Linked DNA regions of Homo sapiens. The protein of the gene in region 1 purifies or fractionates together with the protein of each later gene. This does not show direct contact. Each region holds a gene or a part of one and is shown on either strand. Other genes may lie near its edges.

Evidence for each region.
Region 2: the proteins of NEK8 (region 1) and ANKS6 purify together in Homo sapiens (affinity purification with mass spectrometry; 2 studies listed by BioGRID and IntAct, with this or other methods). This does not show direct contact.

What each region holds. Positions count from the first base shown.
Region 1 is NC_000017.11:28,731,772-28,738,809, reverse strand, and holds part of NEK8 (serine/threonine-protein kinase Nek8), read right to left. Parts: intron 4,828-7,038; coding exon 4,622-4,827; intron 4,039-4,621; coding exon 3,806-4,038; intron 3,571-3,805; coding exon 3,439-3,570; intron 1,505-3,438; coding exon 1,296-1,504; intron 1,136-1,295; coding exon 1,074-1,135; intron 992-1,073; coding exon 810-991; intron 716-809; coding exon 565-715; intron 140-564; coding exon 63-139; intron 1-62. UniProt on the Homo sapiens protein: Required for renal tubular integrity. May regulate local cytoskeletal structure in kidney tubule epithelial cells. May regulate ciliary biogenesis through targeting of proteins to the cilia.
Region 2 is NC_000009.12:98,779,545-98,786,582, reverse strand, and holds part of ANKS6 (ankyrin repeat and SAM domain-containing protein 6), read left to right. Parts: intron 1-1,706; coding exon 1,707-1,751; intron 1,752-2,425; coding exon 2,426-2,630; intron 2,631-4,009; coding exon 4,010-4,116; intron 4,117-6,245; coding exon 6,246-6,394; intron 6,395-7,038.

The DNA.
Region 1 (7,038 bases):
CACAGATGTGGGCTCCCCGCCATCCCCCGACTTCCCCTTCCCAAGGTATATGTGACACCCACCTGGCTGATGTCAGTGAGGCTGCCATGGCCTAGGCACCCATTGCTGCCGCTGCCGAATGTCATGATGATGCCTCTGTCTGGGGAGAAGGGCAGTGAGGAAGGAGAAGGGAAAGAAGTTAAACAGTCTTTCCAGATAGCCCGGTCCTCCAGTGGGTTGCAGCAGCAAAATAAAGTTGGGGACCAGGGCTGGAAGGATGGGATAGGAAGAGAGAAAAGGATATGAGTCCCTTCAAACATATGTGACTTTGGACAAGTGACACCCTCTCTGAGCCTTAGCGTCCCCACTTGTCAAATGAGGATAATATAATAACTGCCTTGCCAGGCCTGTCCGTAGGGTAAAGGAGGTTGTATAAGGAAATCTCCTCAATAGTTACTAGACAGAAGCAATAACTCGATAACTAGTAGACAGAAGCATTCATTAAGTGCGTGTTTTGCAAGAGAAGAGAGAAGGTGCTCTGTGGGGCCTCAGAGCAGGTCCCACAAGGTAGGCCCGACAACTCACCAGTCAGGCAGGCAGTGAAGAAGTCCCCACAGGCCACGTGCTTGATGGTCACACCCGACTGGCCCTCCAGGAAACGCGAGATGAACTGGGGCTGTGGCTGCTCCACTGCCCCAGGAAGGAGACTGCCTCCGCCTGCACCTAGGGGTGGGGCCTGCAGGGGCAGGGGGATGGGCAGCGCCTGAGCACCCCAACCCTGCTGTGGACCTCCACCTCCACCCATCCAGGCCACCCCCTGGCCTGCTCACCTCCCACAGGATGAGACGCCCAGAGCGCGTGACGCCGGCTTTCTGCGTGCGCCCAGCTGCCACCTGGACCACCTCTGTGTTGAGCATTGGCAGCCGCAGGGGGGTGCCCAGCCCACCACCCCAGGCATACACTGACGACAGTGGTGGTGGGATGGCTGGCCTCACAGGTCCCCGGGGGATACCTGCAGGTACAGTGCATGGGGACTATTAAACTGATGGGAATGGTGTGGCATCCATGGGGACTGGCGGCCTCTTCCCACTTACCTCTGCAGCGGACACTGGTGGTCCTGCTCCCTGTGTTGCTGGGGGCCACGGACTTCTCTGCCCTGCAGGACAGATGGGGGCCTAAGGACAAAGACCCTCCTGACATTCCTACATGCAGGAAGGGAGGACTTGCCCCAGGTTTCCCTCTGCCTCAGACCTCCTGTGCTCCCACTGGGTGCCCACACCCTGCCGCCCAGGACCGCTCGCTGTCCCTGCACAGGCCTCCGCATGCGGACACTGCCCACGTCGGTGTGGAGGTTGAGGAGGGCACGGATGCAGAGGGGCTGTGCCATGATGTGGCTGAGTGGTGGCCGCTGGGCAGGCTCCAGGCTGAGTAGACTCAGGACCAGCTGGCGAAGCTCAGGGCTGTACCGGTCAGAGATAGGTGCAAAGGTGCCACTCATGATCTTCAGCACCAGTGCTGGCAAGTTCTGTGAAGGCACCAGGTTGAGAATTTGGGGAAGTGAGGGCAGCACCCCCCAGCTCCAGCCCCTGGTCTCCTGGGATAATAACAGCTTTGCCTGGAGGCATCATGCTACCTGACTTCAAACTATACTACAAGGCTACAGTAACCAAAACAGCATGGTACTGGTACCAAAACAGAGATATAGACCAATGGAACAGAACAGAGCCCTCAGAAATAATGCCACACATCTACAACTATCTGATCTTTGACAAACCTGAGAAAAACAAGAAATGGGGAAAGGATTCCCTATTTAATAAATGGTGCTGGGAAAACTGGCTAGCCATATGTAGAAAGCTGAAACTGGATCCCTTCCTTACACCTTATACAAAAATTAATTCAAGATGGACTAAAGACTTACATGTTAGACCTAAAACCATCAAACCCCTAGAAGAATACCTAGGCAATACCATTCAGGACATAGGCATGGGCAAGGACTTCATGTCTAAAACACCAAAAGCAATGGCAACAAAAGCCAAAATTGACAAATGGGATCTAATTAAACTAAAGAGCTTCTGCACAGCAAAAGAAACTACCATCAGAGTGAACAGGCAACCTACAGAATGGGAGAAGATTTTTGCAATCTACTCATCTGACAAAGGGCTAATATCCAGAATCTACAAAGAACTCAAACAAATTTACAAGAAAAAAACAACCCCATCAACAAGTGGGCGAAGGATATGAACAGACACTTCTCAAAAGAAGACATTTATGCAGCCAAAAGACACATGAAAAAATGCTCATCATCACTGGCCATCAAGAAATGCAAATCAAAACCACAATGAGATACCATCTCACACCAGTTAGAATGGTGATCTTTAAAAAGTCAGGAAACAACAAGTGCTGGAGAGGATGTGGAGAAATAGGAACACTTTTACACTGTTGGTGGGACTGTAAACTAGTTCAACCATTGTGGAAGTCAGTGTGGCGATTCCTCAGGGATCTAGAACTAGAAATACCATTTGACCCAGCCATCCCATTACTGGGTGTATACCCAAAGGATTATAAATCATGCTGCTATAAAGACACATGCACACGTATGTTTATTGTGGCACTATTCACAATAGCAAAGACTTGGAACCAACCTAAATGTCCAACAATGATAGATGGATTAAGAAAACGTGGCACATACACACCATGGAAAACTATGCAGCCGTAAAAAATGATGAGTTCATGTCCTTTGTAGGACATGGATGGAGCTGGAAACCATCATTCTCAGCAAACTATCGCAAGGACAAAAAACCAAACACCGCATGTTCTCACTCATAGGTGGGAATTGAACAATGAGAACACATGGACACAGGAAGGGGAACATCACACACCGGGGCCTGTTGTGGGGTGGGGGGAGGGGGAAGGGATAGCATTAGGAGATATACCTAATGTTAAATGATGAGTTAATGGGTGCAGCACACCAACATCGCACATGTATACATACGTATCAAACCTGCACGTTGTGTACATGTGCCCTAAAACTTAAAGTATAATAAAAAAAATAAATAAATAAACAATAACAGCTTTGCCCTCAGGAGACTTCAGTCTGATGAGGAGACTCCCAGACTGACAGGGGAGTCCAACCTGGCTTTCAGTGATCCCTAGTCTGATAGGGGAGCTGCAGCTATATCCTCAGAAACCCCAGCATGCTGGGAAAACTCAAGTCTTGCTCTTGGGAGGGTCTTCTGGGAAAGCCACAGCCCTGCCCTCAGGAGCCCTCCGTCTAATGGGAGGCAAGACCTACTCTCAGAAATCCATAGTCTGAGGGACACCCATAGCCCTCCCCTGGGGTAATCTGATAAGGGAGAGACATGACTCAGCTAGAGGAGAAACCTGAGGTGGCTTGAGCCAAGGGCTGCTGGGCGAGGCAGTAGATTTCTCAGTTGTCCCCTGGAGGGTGCATACACTCACCGCAGCCTCGAAAGCCCTCTTGAGGCTGGCCAGCTCGTAGAGGACACAGCCCAGGGCCCAGATGTCACTCTTCTGGTTGTAGGGCTTGCCCTCACACAGCTCAGGGGAGATATAGCATGGGGTACCCACCACCTGCAGGATAGAAGCTGGGATCACAGCCCTGCAGGGAGGGAAGACCAGGGGCTCTGTGCATAAGCCCATTTGGGGACAGCTTCTTCTCAAAGCAAGCCAAGGGGCTTCCTCCTGCAGAACCACCCAAACAGGGGCCAAAGGGCCAAGGGTTTTTTAGGGGGAGGGGAGGAGGCAGGGTTAGGTCCTGGCCCTCAAGACTTCTAGTGCCCTGGAGGTCCCTTCCATGCCCAGGCACCGTGTAGGCCTTGCTCTTGCTGCTAAGGATCTTGGAGATGCCGAAATCACCGATCTTGACGACCATGCGGTGTTTGTCAAGCAGGATGTTCTGGGTCTTGAGGTCTCGGTGCAGGATGAGGTGGGTGTGCACATGATGCAGTGCAAGCAGGATCTGCACGAAGAAGTGCAGGATGGTCTCCTCCTCCAGCAGGGAATTACAGCGCTTTTGGATGAACTCAGCCAGAGTGCCGCCTGTGGCCCAAGGGACTAATCAAGATCCAGGCTTTCTCACACCTACGACAACCCCTCTCCATTGTTGTTGTTGTTTTTTTTTTTTGAGATGGAGTCTCGCTCTGTTGCCCAGGCTGGAGTGCAGTGGCATGATCTCAGCTCACTGCTGCAAGCCCCCCCTCCCGGGTTCAAGCCATTCTCCTGCCTCAGCCTCCTTAGTAGCTGGGACTACAGGTGCCTGCCACCACACCCGGCTAATTTTTTTTTTTTTTTGTATTTTTAGTAGAGACGGGGTTTCCCCGTGTTAAACAGGATGGTCTCGATCTCCTGACCTCATGATCCGCCCGCCTCGGCGTTGGCCTCCCAAAGTGCTGAGATTACAGGCATGAGCCACCGTGCCCAGCCAACAACCCCTCTCCTTTTATGTATGGAACAGGGCACTGGGACCAGAGAGGACAAGGGGCTAGCCGGGGTCAGATAATTGGGACCAGAACTCTAACCCTTGGCCATGCCCATTCCAAGGAGGGAAGCCAGGAGATCTGTGTCTGCCTGTCCCAGAGGTAAGAGGCCCTCCAGCCAGGCCACTGTAAGGAGGCTGGCCCACCTGGTGCATATTCCATGGCGATCATAAGGGCTTTGTCTTCCAGGAAGTTCTCGTAGTACTCAATGACATTGGGGTGGTTGAGCAGCTTGAGGACCTGGCACTCATTCTGGGCTGCCTGCCGCTCTTCCTTGGTCATCTGTTCCACTGGAATCTGCTTGATGATCACCAGCTTCTGGTCAGCCTTTCGCAGGCACAGGTGCACAATCCTAGGGATACGGAGGACAGGGACAGGTTACCAGCTAAGCCTCCAGCCACATATCAGGCAGGGCGGTGCAGCCTAGTGACTGATGTCTCTTGGAAGAGGGTTCTAGACTGAGAGGTCATCTAACCAAGCGCACAGAACACTGAACTTGGGAACAGGGAGAACTGATTACAAGCTGTGTGGGACTTCAGTTTCACCACAGGCACTGTGAGGTAAAGTTAGTCTTGATCTCTAAGTTCCCACAGACTGCCTGGGTTCAAATCTGGGTGCCTCCTCTTACTAGTTATCTGGTTTGATACATTATGTGACATCATTGTCTGGAAAATGAAATGGGCCTCCCAGGGTTGTTGAGAGGATGGAATGAGAAAATGCATGTAAGGCACTGAGTGCAGTGACCAGCACAAAGAAAACGCTCAATGAATAGAAGCCATTCATATTATTTTATTTTAATTCTGTGGTTAGTCTCCATAAAAGCAGGGACTACAACATTCTTGTTCACCACAATAACCCCAGTGCATAGCCCAATATTTAGCACACAATAGGCAGTCAATAAGTATTTGTTGAATGAGTGGACTATAAGCTGATCTAAGTCTCAAATTTTTACCTCCAGATCAGGCTTCTCTTCTGAACCCTAGACTCAGATATCCACTTGAATGGCTCACAGTCATCCTAAATTTTAACAAATTCAAAATAAAACTCTTGATTCCTGCCTCCAAACCTTTCCTTGCTCAGTCTCTTCCATCTCAGTAAATGCTACCATCATCCTCCAGTTATTAAAATCAGAAACTGCTAAAATCAGAAACCTGAGGCAGGGCCAAGTGGCTAAGGCCTGTGATCTCAGCACTTTGGGAGGCCAAGGCAGGTAGATCACTTGAGTCCAGGCGTTCAAGACCAGCCTGAGCAACATGGTGAAACCCACTCTCGCAAAAAAAAAAAAAAAAAAAAATTAGCTGAGCATGGTGGCAAGCCTCTGTGGTCCCAGCTGCTCTGGAGGATGAGGTGGGAGGATCACCTGAGCCTAGGACATTGAAGATACAGTTAGCCATGATTGCGCCACTGCACTCCAGCCTGGGTGACCAAGTGAGATGGTCTCAAAACAAAACAACAAAAAAACAGACACTTGAAAATCAGCCTAGGCCGGGCGAAATGGCTCACACTTGTAATACTAACACTTTGGGAGGCCGAGGTGGGTGGAGCATTTGAGGTCAGGAATTTGAGAACAACCTGGCCAAAATGGTGAAACCCCATCTCCACCCAAAATACAAAAATTAGCTGGGTGTGGTGGCAGGCGCCTGTAATCCCAGCTACTCGGGAGGCTGAGGCAGCAGAATGGCCTGAACCTGGGAGGTGGAGCTTGCTGTGAGCCGAGATGGCGCCACTGCACTCCAGCCTGGGCGACAGAGTGAGACTCCACCTCAAAAAAAAAAAAAAAAAAAAAAAAGAAAAGAAAAAAGAAAATCGCCCTAGAATCTTTCCTCCATTTCACACAAGCAAATCCTATTTCTACCTCTGCAATACTGTAAATCCATCCAATTCTCTGTGCCCTCTCTACAGCCCTTGCCCTATAGTCATCATAATTTCTCGCCTAAAATACTGTATAACTCTCCAAAATGGTCCCTTTCACTCCTGTCACCCTCAAATCTAAATTCTACATGAACCAGAATGACATTTATTTTTTATTTATTTTTCTTTTTTTTATAGATATGGGTCTCACTATGTTGGCCAGGTTGGTCTTGAACTCGTGGCCTCAAGATATGCTCCCACCTCGGCCTCCCAAAGTGCTGGGATTATGGGCATGAGCCACCATGCCCAGCCCCAGAATGCAATTTAAAAATCTTACTATCCTGGCTAACACGATGAAACCCCGTCTCTACTAAAAATACAAAAAATTAGCTAGGCATGCTGGTGGGTGCCTGTAGTCCCAGCTACTCGGGAGACTGAGGCAGTAGAATGGCGTGAACCCGTGAGGCGGAGCTTGCAGTGAGCCTAGATTGCGCCACTGCAGTCCAGCCTAGAAGATAGAGCAAGACTCCGTCTCAAAAAAAAAAAAAAAAAAAAAAAAAAAAAAAAAAAAAAAATTGGGGCCAGGCGCGGTGGCTCACGCCTGTAATCCCAGGCCTTTGGGAGACTGAGGCAGGCGGATCACGAGGTCAGCAGATCGAGACCATACTGGCTAACATGGTGAAACCCCGTCTCTACTAAAAAATACAAAAAA
Region 2 (7,038 bases), on another chromosome or scaffold:
TGTGGTGGCTCACGCCTGTAATCCCAGCACTTTGGGAGGCGGAGGTGGGTGAATCACGAGGTCAGGAGTTCGAGACCAACCTGGCCAAGATGGTGAAACCCCATCTCTACTAAAAATACAAAAATTAGCCAGATGCGGTGGTGGGTGCCTGTAATCCCAGCTGTTCTGGAAGCAGAGGCAGGAGAATCGCTTGAACCCGGGAGGCAGAGGTTGCAGTGAGCCTAGATCTCACCACTGCCCTCTAGCCTGGGAGACACAGCAAGACTCCATCTCAAAAAAAAAAAAAAAACAATTCTGGAGTTCCGGCCTGGAGCGGTGGCTCACACCTGCAATCTCAGCAGTTTGGGAGGCCAAGGCGAGCAGATCACTTGAGGTCAGGAGTTTGAGACCAGCCTGGCCAACATGGCAAAACCCCGTCTCTACTAAAAATACAAAAATTAGCTGGGTGTAGTGGCGTGTGCCTGTCATCCCAGCTACTCGGGAGGCTGAGGCACAAGAGTCACTTGAACCCAGGAGGCAGAGGTTGCAGTGAGCCAAGATCACGCCACTGCACTCCAGCCTGGGTGACAGAGCGAGACTCCATCTCAAAAAAAGAATTCTGGGGTTTACCTTGCTGGTTGCTAAAGAAAGTAATTGCTCTTTGAATGGCGCCTTAACATTATCATTTGATCCCTGCAACAGCCAGGTGAGAGGGATGCTATCCCCACATTTGTGATGAAGAGGCAGCTTACTCTAAAAATGTGCGCTGAAATTCACGTGCACTGACTCCACACTCTGTGCTCCTTGTCCTGGGCTGCAGCTTCCTCCCAGTTACTCAAGAGGGCTCATTTCGACCAGAGTCAGCCCAGAGTCACAAGTGCCCTCTGGCAGCTGCTCCATCCCCTGGGATCAATTAAAGGCTGCAGAAGGCCTGCCTTCAGCCCCCCAGCAAGCAGACTGGCCATGAGGATGCCTGCTCTGACAGGAATGGGGTACCTGCTGGCCCAAGCTTGGAGGAAGGTGTGGGATGAGCATGTGAGGGAGGGGCTAACATCTGGCGGCTGCAGCAAGGCTCAGCTGTGCAGGTAGGCATGGGGTCCGGCCCCAGCCTAGCAGCTGGGCTTCAGGGTACAGCATGAAGATGCCCAGTTGGGCAGCGGCTTTTGGCCAGCTGTGTCTGCAGGTTTGGAGGAGGGAGCATGTTCTGATTGCTTCTTACATGGGAGGGAAAGAAAATATGAGCATTGGCTCTTCTGTTGGCTGTGGCTGTGAACTTCCTTAGAGCTCAGCTGCTCGATATCTCAGGGGTCCTCTGATTTGGAATTATGATTGTACATTTAGTTTTTAGAAGAAAAAAAATTTTTAAACAATGTCCATGGGAATCCAGGATTTTCTAAGACCCCAAGACTTTTCAGTATATCTAAGAAAGGATATGCCAACGTTTGTTTTGCCTAAAAATGATTGCTTTATTTGCATGAGATCAGGGCCGTGATCTGCTGCTCATTCGTGTTTTGTTGGCAAGATCTGTCTCTGAAGTGTTTTCAGATGTTCTTGGGTAATAAACCTTCCAGAAGAGCTGCTGGATTTGTCCATTACGTAGGTCTCCAATTAGATTGCTTTTGAGAATTAGATGCTTTTTAAAGCCAGGCTGTGTTGTTACACCCTTGTGACTTTTCTGTTATATTAAACCTTTCCGTGGTTAACTTTAAAAATCTTTGTTTACCCAGATGAGGAGAAAAGGCGACCTGATATTTTCCATGCATTGAAAATGGGTAAGCGCTTTAGAAAATCTTTTTGGATATTTAAGAATATAGGGCTACATTCTCCCAACCTAATATTTGTAGTCCTTTGCAGGGCCACCCAGGGTATTTGAGAAAGAAACAGGCATTTTGGTGTTTGGTGTTTGGAAGTTCAGATCCTGGAGGCCAGTATTTATTGTAGAGCTCTACACATAGACTCCAGACGGCCTCCAGCCCCACTCCAGCCAAACACTGTCTAGCTATGCCCTAGCTCTTCCTGCATCTGAAATGCCTCTCTGCATACCCACTCCAGTCTCTTTGTGACAAAGAGGCATTTAGCCTAAAATTTTCTCTCTTGATATAGACCCTGCTTCCAGGAAGCCCTTCCCGATCCTCACCCCGCAGCGAGACCTGAACTCTCCTTCTGTCTTCTTCTGTCTCCTTCATCCGTTCTCTGAAGACACTAACAACACTTCTGTCTTTTGGTAACACTTCTGCCCATTCGTGTGTTTGTCTCTGTCTCGCCTAGACTGAGGCATTTAAGAGTCGGGGCTATCTCTGACGCCCTCTTAGTATCCCCTATGATGCCCAGCAGCCCACTGCAGAGGCAGAGCAGGGCCAGCAAGTGTTTGTTACATGAACCACAGGAGAAATCAGCCTATGGTACCAGGCCCACAGTTCACCCGGACTCCTGCTTGTGTTTGCAGGAAACTTCCAGCTGGTCAAAGAGATTGCCGATGAAGACCCCAGCCACGTGAACTTGGTCAATGGGGACGGGGCGACGCCACTGATGCTAGCAGCTGTTACGGGGCAGCTGGCTCTGGTGCAGCTGCTGGTGGAGAGGCACGCGGATGTTGACAAGCAGGACAGCGTGCATGGCTGGACGGCCCTCATGCAGGCAACCTACCATGGGTCAGTGCCAGCCCCACGCCCTCAGCGACAAGGCCAGACAGATGCTCTGGCCTGAGATGGAGGTTCCCAATGGGCTCTTCTGGTCCTGAGATGCTGCATACAAACCCCAGGACTATGACGACATTGAGGCATGGAAAAAAAAAAAAAAAGCGGCACAGGCTCATTTTAGTCCCACCCTTCTGTGTCCAGATTTCCTGTTCCCCCATCACAGAATTTCACAATGGCCCTGAAAAACCATGCAGCAGGAGCATTTTATGCAGAGAGATAAGGTTCTCTAGGTTGGTTTCAGTTGAACACAGTGACTGATTCATTGGAGTTTTCACATTGAGATATAGTGACCTCCTTAAGTAGCTCCTGTATGAAGTAAACATTGGTTATTCATACCATTGTCGTCTTGTGATGATTGATGGTGAGATGTGTCCTACCCCTCTCCTTTTGAATAGGCTTCAGTGTTTACAGGGTGCTTATGAACCCCTTCTTATGTGATCATCCCAGCAGGATGGGCTGTCATCCTCCTGGAGGCCTCGTCTTTGGGGTGGGCATCTTGTAGCTGCTAAGTGATCTGACTCCCAGTTAGAGGTTCTTTCCTTGCCCTCTTTTAGGTGATCAGATCACTTTCCTGTGTCATCTGAAAACAGTTTGTTTTCTTATTCGATGAGTCTTGAATTCCAAGACGAAATTTTATTTCAGACACCTTGGTCTGTAGGAGACTTTCCCAATGGAGATGTCCTGATTTAGGGTGGAAGAAGTGGAGTCTCCATGGGGTCAGTGATTTTTGGGCAGAGCTGTTGGTTTTGTCTCCTCTCCCCTCCCCCTCCCCTCCCCTCCCCTTCCTTTTCCTTCCCTTCTCTTTTCTTTTCTTTTCTTTCCAACAGTATCTCACTTTGTTGCCAGACTGGAGTGCAGTAGCGTGATCATGGCTCACTGCTGCCTTGACCTCCCAGACTCAAGCATCCTCCAACCTCAGTCTCTCAAGTAGCTGGAACTACAGACTTGCACCACCACACCTAGCTAATTTTTAAACAAAATTTTTAGTAGAGACAGGGCCCCCCATGTTGCCCAGGCTGGTCTCAAATTCCTGGGCTCAAGTGATCCTCCCACCTTGGCTTCCCAAAGTGATGGGATTACGGGTGTGAGCCACCACATCTAGCCTCAGTCTTCATTTTGTTCCTGGAAGGAACACTTAGACTTTGATTTAAATCATGTTCCCGCTTGACCTGCCCACGTGCTAGGGAATGAGAGAATGTGAGACTGTTTGCCCTTCCATGTCCTTCTTAAATGCTCAGAGACTGAGCTTTGTAGTTAATGTTGGTTTTGTTGCCCAGGAGCAAAGCCATGCCTTTGCTTTCAGTGAATGTAACTCTAGCATTTTTTCCCAGGAATAAGGAAATTGTGAAATATCTGCTAAACCAAGGGGCCGATGTCACTCTTCGTGCAAAAAATGGATACACGGCCTTTGACCTGGTGATGCTGCTGAATGATCCCGGTAGGTAATTTCAAGAAAAGGGTTGTAAATCTACCCAGCGTTTCTTGGACTGGGAGTCAAGACAGGCACCTCCTCTGTGACTTGTGTTTTAAGCACTTGCTTATTCGTGGGGGAAAGTCACTCTCAAGTGTCAGGAGCTTACTGCATGATCTTAGGCAAGTTCCTTCCCTCCCCAGTGAAGCGCTGGACTTGGACCAGGTGGCCCCGGGGACTTCCTCCAGCACCAACCTCCTAGGAGTCTCTAGAGAGGGAAGGAAAATAAGACGTGTCTGACTTTGCAGTCCACACACACCCTAGAATGGCATCTGTGCTTCACAGCCAGAAATCCTGAGTCACTCAGGTGGAAACATAAAGTCCCCTTTGATAAGCAGAATGGGAGATAGAGCGATGGCCTTCTCAGCTTAATTGTGTAGGTAGAGGCTGCAGGGTCAAGGGTCGTGTACTGGGAATGTAGCCGTTAGTTCCACCCCATTTTGGCCTCGGCTGGTACCTGCTACTCCCCTTTGACCCTCCCCTGCTGTGACAGACCCTCTTTTGGGACCTGGGCTTCCAGTTAGCCAGCTCAAGGGGAAAGGTCTCTGATCTGTCGTCTTTCTTATCAACCTGGAGTTTCAACCCAGAGAGAGAGAAGCCCCGAGGCCCTTCTGACCCACTGGGCTTGAACCCTGTGCTGGGATTCTAGCTGTTGGCTGTGGGGAGAGAAGACTTTCACCTCTGCAGTCACAAGTCACCTGCTGCCCCTCTTAGCTAGAGGGGTAGCCAGCAGGCATGCCCTTCCTCGTCACAGCACTGCCACCCTTGCCACCCCTTCCCTGCTGCAGGCCCCTGCACTTCACAGATGCACACTTGGTTCTGTTTGACCCTCAAAGAGGTCTGAGAGGGGAAGCAGAGGTTCACATCCTCTTGAAGAGATGAGGTCGCCAAGACTCGGGAAGTGATCTGTCCCAGCCAGAGGGTTGGAGTCCTGTGCCCCAAGTCCAGTGATCCTACTCCACCTCATTGGAGACCTTCTTCACTTGCCAAGAGTTTGTTATTCGGAATCAGTCCGCAGCCACTCTCGCTGGATCTCATACACACTTTTTCTGAGAAACTCATCTTTTCAGTGTTCCTCTTCTCCCTAGCCTCCACTGCCGTTTATTCCCTTTCCCAATAAAACAGTCTATTCCTAGGAATATTTTGCCTACTGGGTTTTTAAATGAAGTGTTTACACAAAACTTTTGAAGAAACTCATGCCTATTATTGAATACTTGGAGAGAAAAAAGAAATAACCTGGCGTGGATGGCTCACGCCCATAATCCCAGCACTTTGGGAGGCTGAGGTGGGTCGATCACTTGAGGCCAGGGGTTCGAGACCAGCCTGGCCAACATGACGAAACCCCATCTCTACTAAAAATACAAAAATTAGCCAGGCATGATGGCGGGCACTGTAGCCCCAGCTACATGGGAGGCTGAGGCAAAGAACCGCTTGAACCTAGGAGGTGGAGGTTGCGGTGAGCCAAGATTGTGCCACTGCACTCCAGCCTGGGTGACAGAGCAAGACTCTGTCTCCAAAAAAAAAAAAAAAGAAATAGTCATCAAGAAAAAGCATTGTTAATAGTTTGGAGTAGTTTCTTCTCAATCTTTTTTGCAATGCTTTTTTTATATAACTGAGTTGGGTTCCTAATAACTTCATAATACTTAGTATTTTTAAAGCACTTGTATTGCTCTAAAGGAATTCCCGTGAATTGATAAGATACCTTTATGTGGTGGGTATTAATGTCACTGACTTGTACAGACGCACAAAGAGGCTTTGTAATTTACCTGCAGTTACACAGCCAGGGAGGGACAGAAGCAGAATCTGAACCTCTGCAGCCTGGCTGTGAAGCCTGCACTTTTAAACACACTGTCCCCCTGCCTTCCTCATGAGAGAGGACTTCCGGTTTTTCTTTCTGGTTAAGTAGGTTAAGCCCTGCTGGCTTTGTTTGCCACCTTTTGAAGATCAGATGGAGAGGCAGGTGCCTTGATTCTGGAATTACACAGACCCTGGAGCTGCAGGGCTGAGTTCTAAGTCTAACAGGGGTCATCTTGAGTCTTCTCCTTATGGCCCAACAGACATATTTGCAGGTAAAATGATGCCTTTTGTGTCCATAGACACGGAACTTGTTCGACTGCTGGCATCTGTCTGCATGCAGGTGAATAAAGACAAAGGCCGGCCGAGCCACCAGCCTCCCCTGCCCCACTCGAAGGTCCGACAGCCCTGGAGCATCCCAGTGCTGCCCGATGACAAGGGTGGACTGAAGGTTTGCCTTTTCCTGTCTTAAAGGGGCTTGGGGGCTAGGGAGATGGGGGCTGGCGGGGAGCCTGCTGCCTCCTATGCACCCAGGCTGGTTTATGCTAGGGAGTCCCTGCAGGGGTGGCAGGTGAGCTGGCATTGAGCAATAGGAAACAAAGGGGACCAGGAAAAACTGGGGAGACTGTGACCATGTTGTGGCAACAGTGGCTGCTTTGTAAGAATGTGGGTCCACGCGGCCGGGCACGGTGGCTCACGCCTGTAATCCCAGCACTTTGAGAGGCCAAGACGGGCGGATCACGAGGTCAGGAGATTGAGACCATCCTGGCTAACACGGTGAAACCCCGTCTCTACTAAAAATACAAAAATTAGCCGGGCATGGTGGCGCACGCCTGTAGTCCCAGCTACACGGGAGGCTGAGGCAGGAGAATGGCGTGAACCCGGGAGGCGGAGCTTGCAGTGAGTCGAGATCGCGCCACTGCACTCCAGCCTGGGCGACAGAGCGAAACTCCGTCTCAAAAAAAAAGAAAAAAGCTTGAGCCTGGTAGGCTGTGGTTGCAGTGAGCTGAGATCACGTCACTGCACTCCAGCCTGGGCGACAGAACAAGAACTTGTCTCAAAAAGGAATGTGGGTCCATATTACTAGATCTCTCT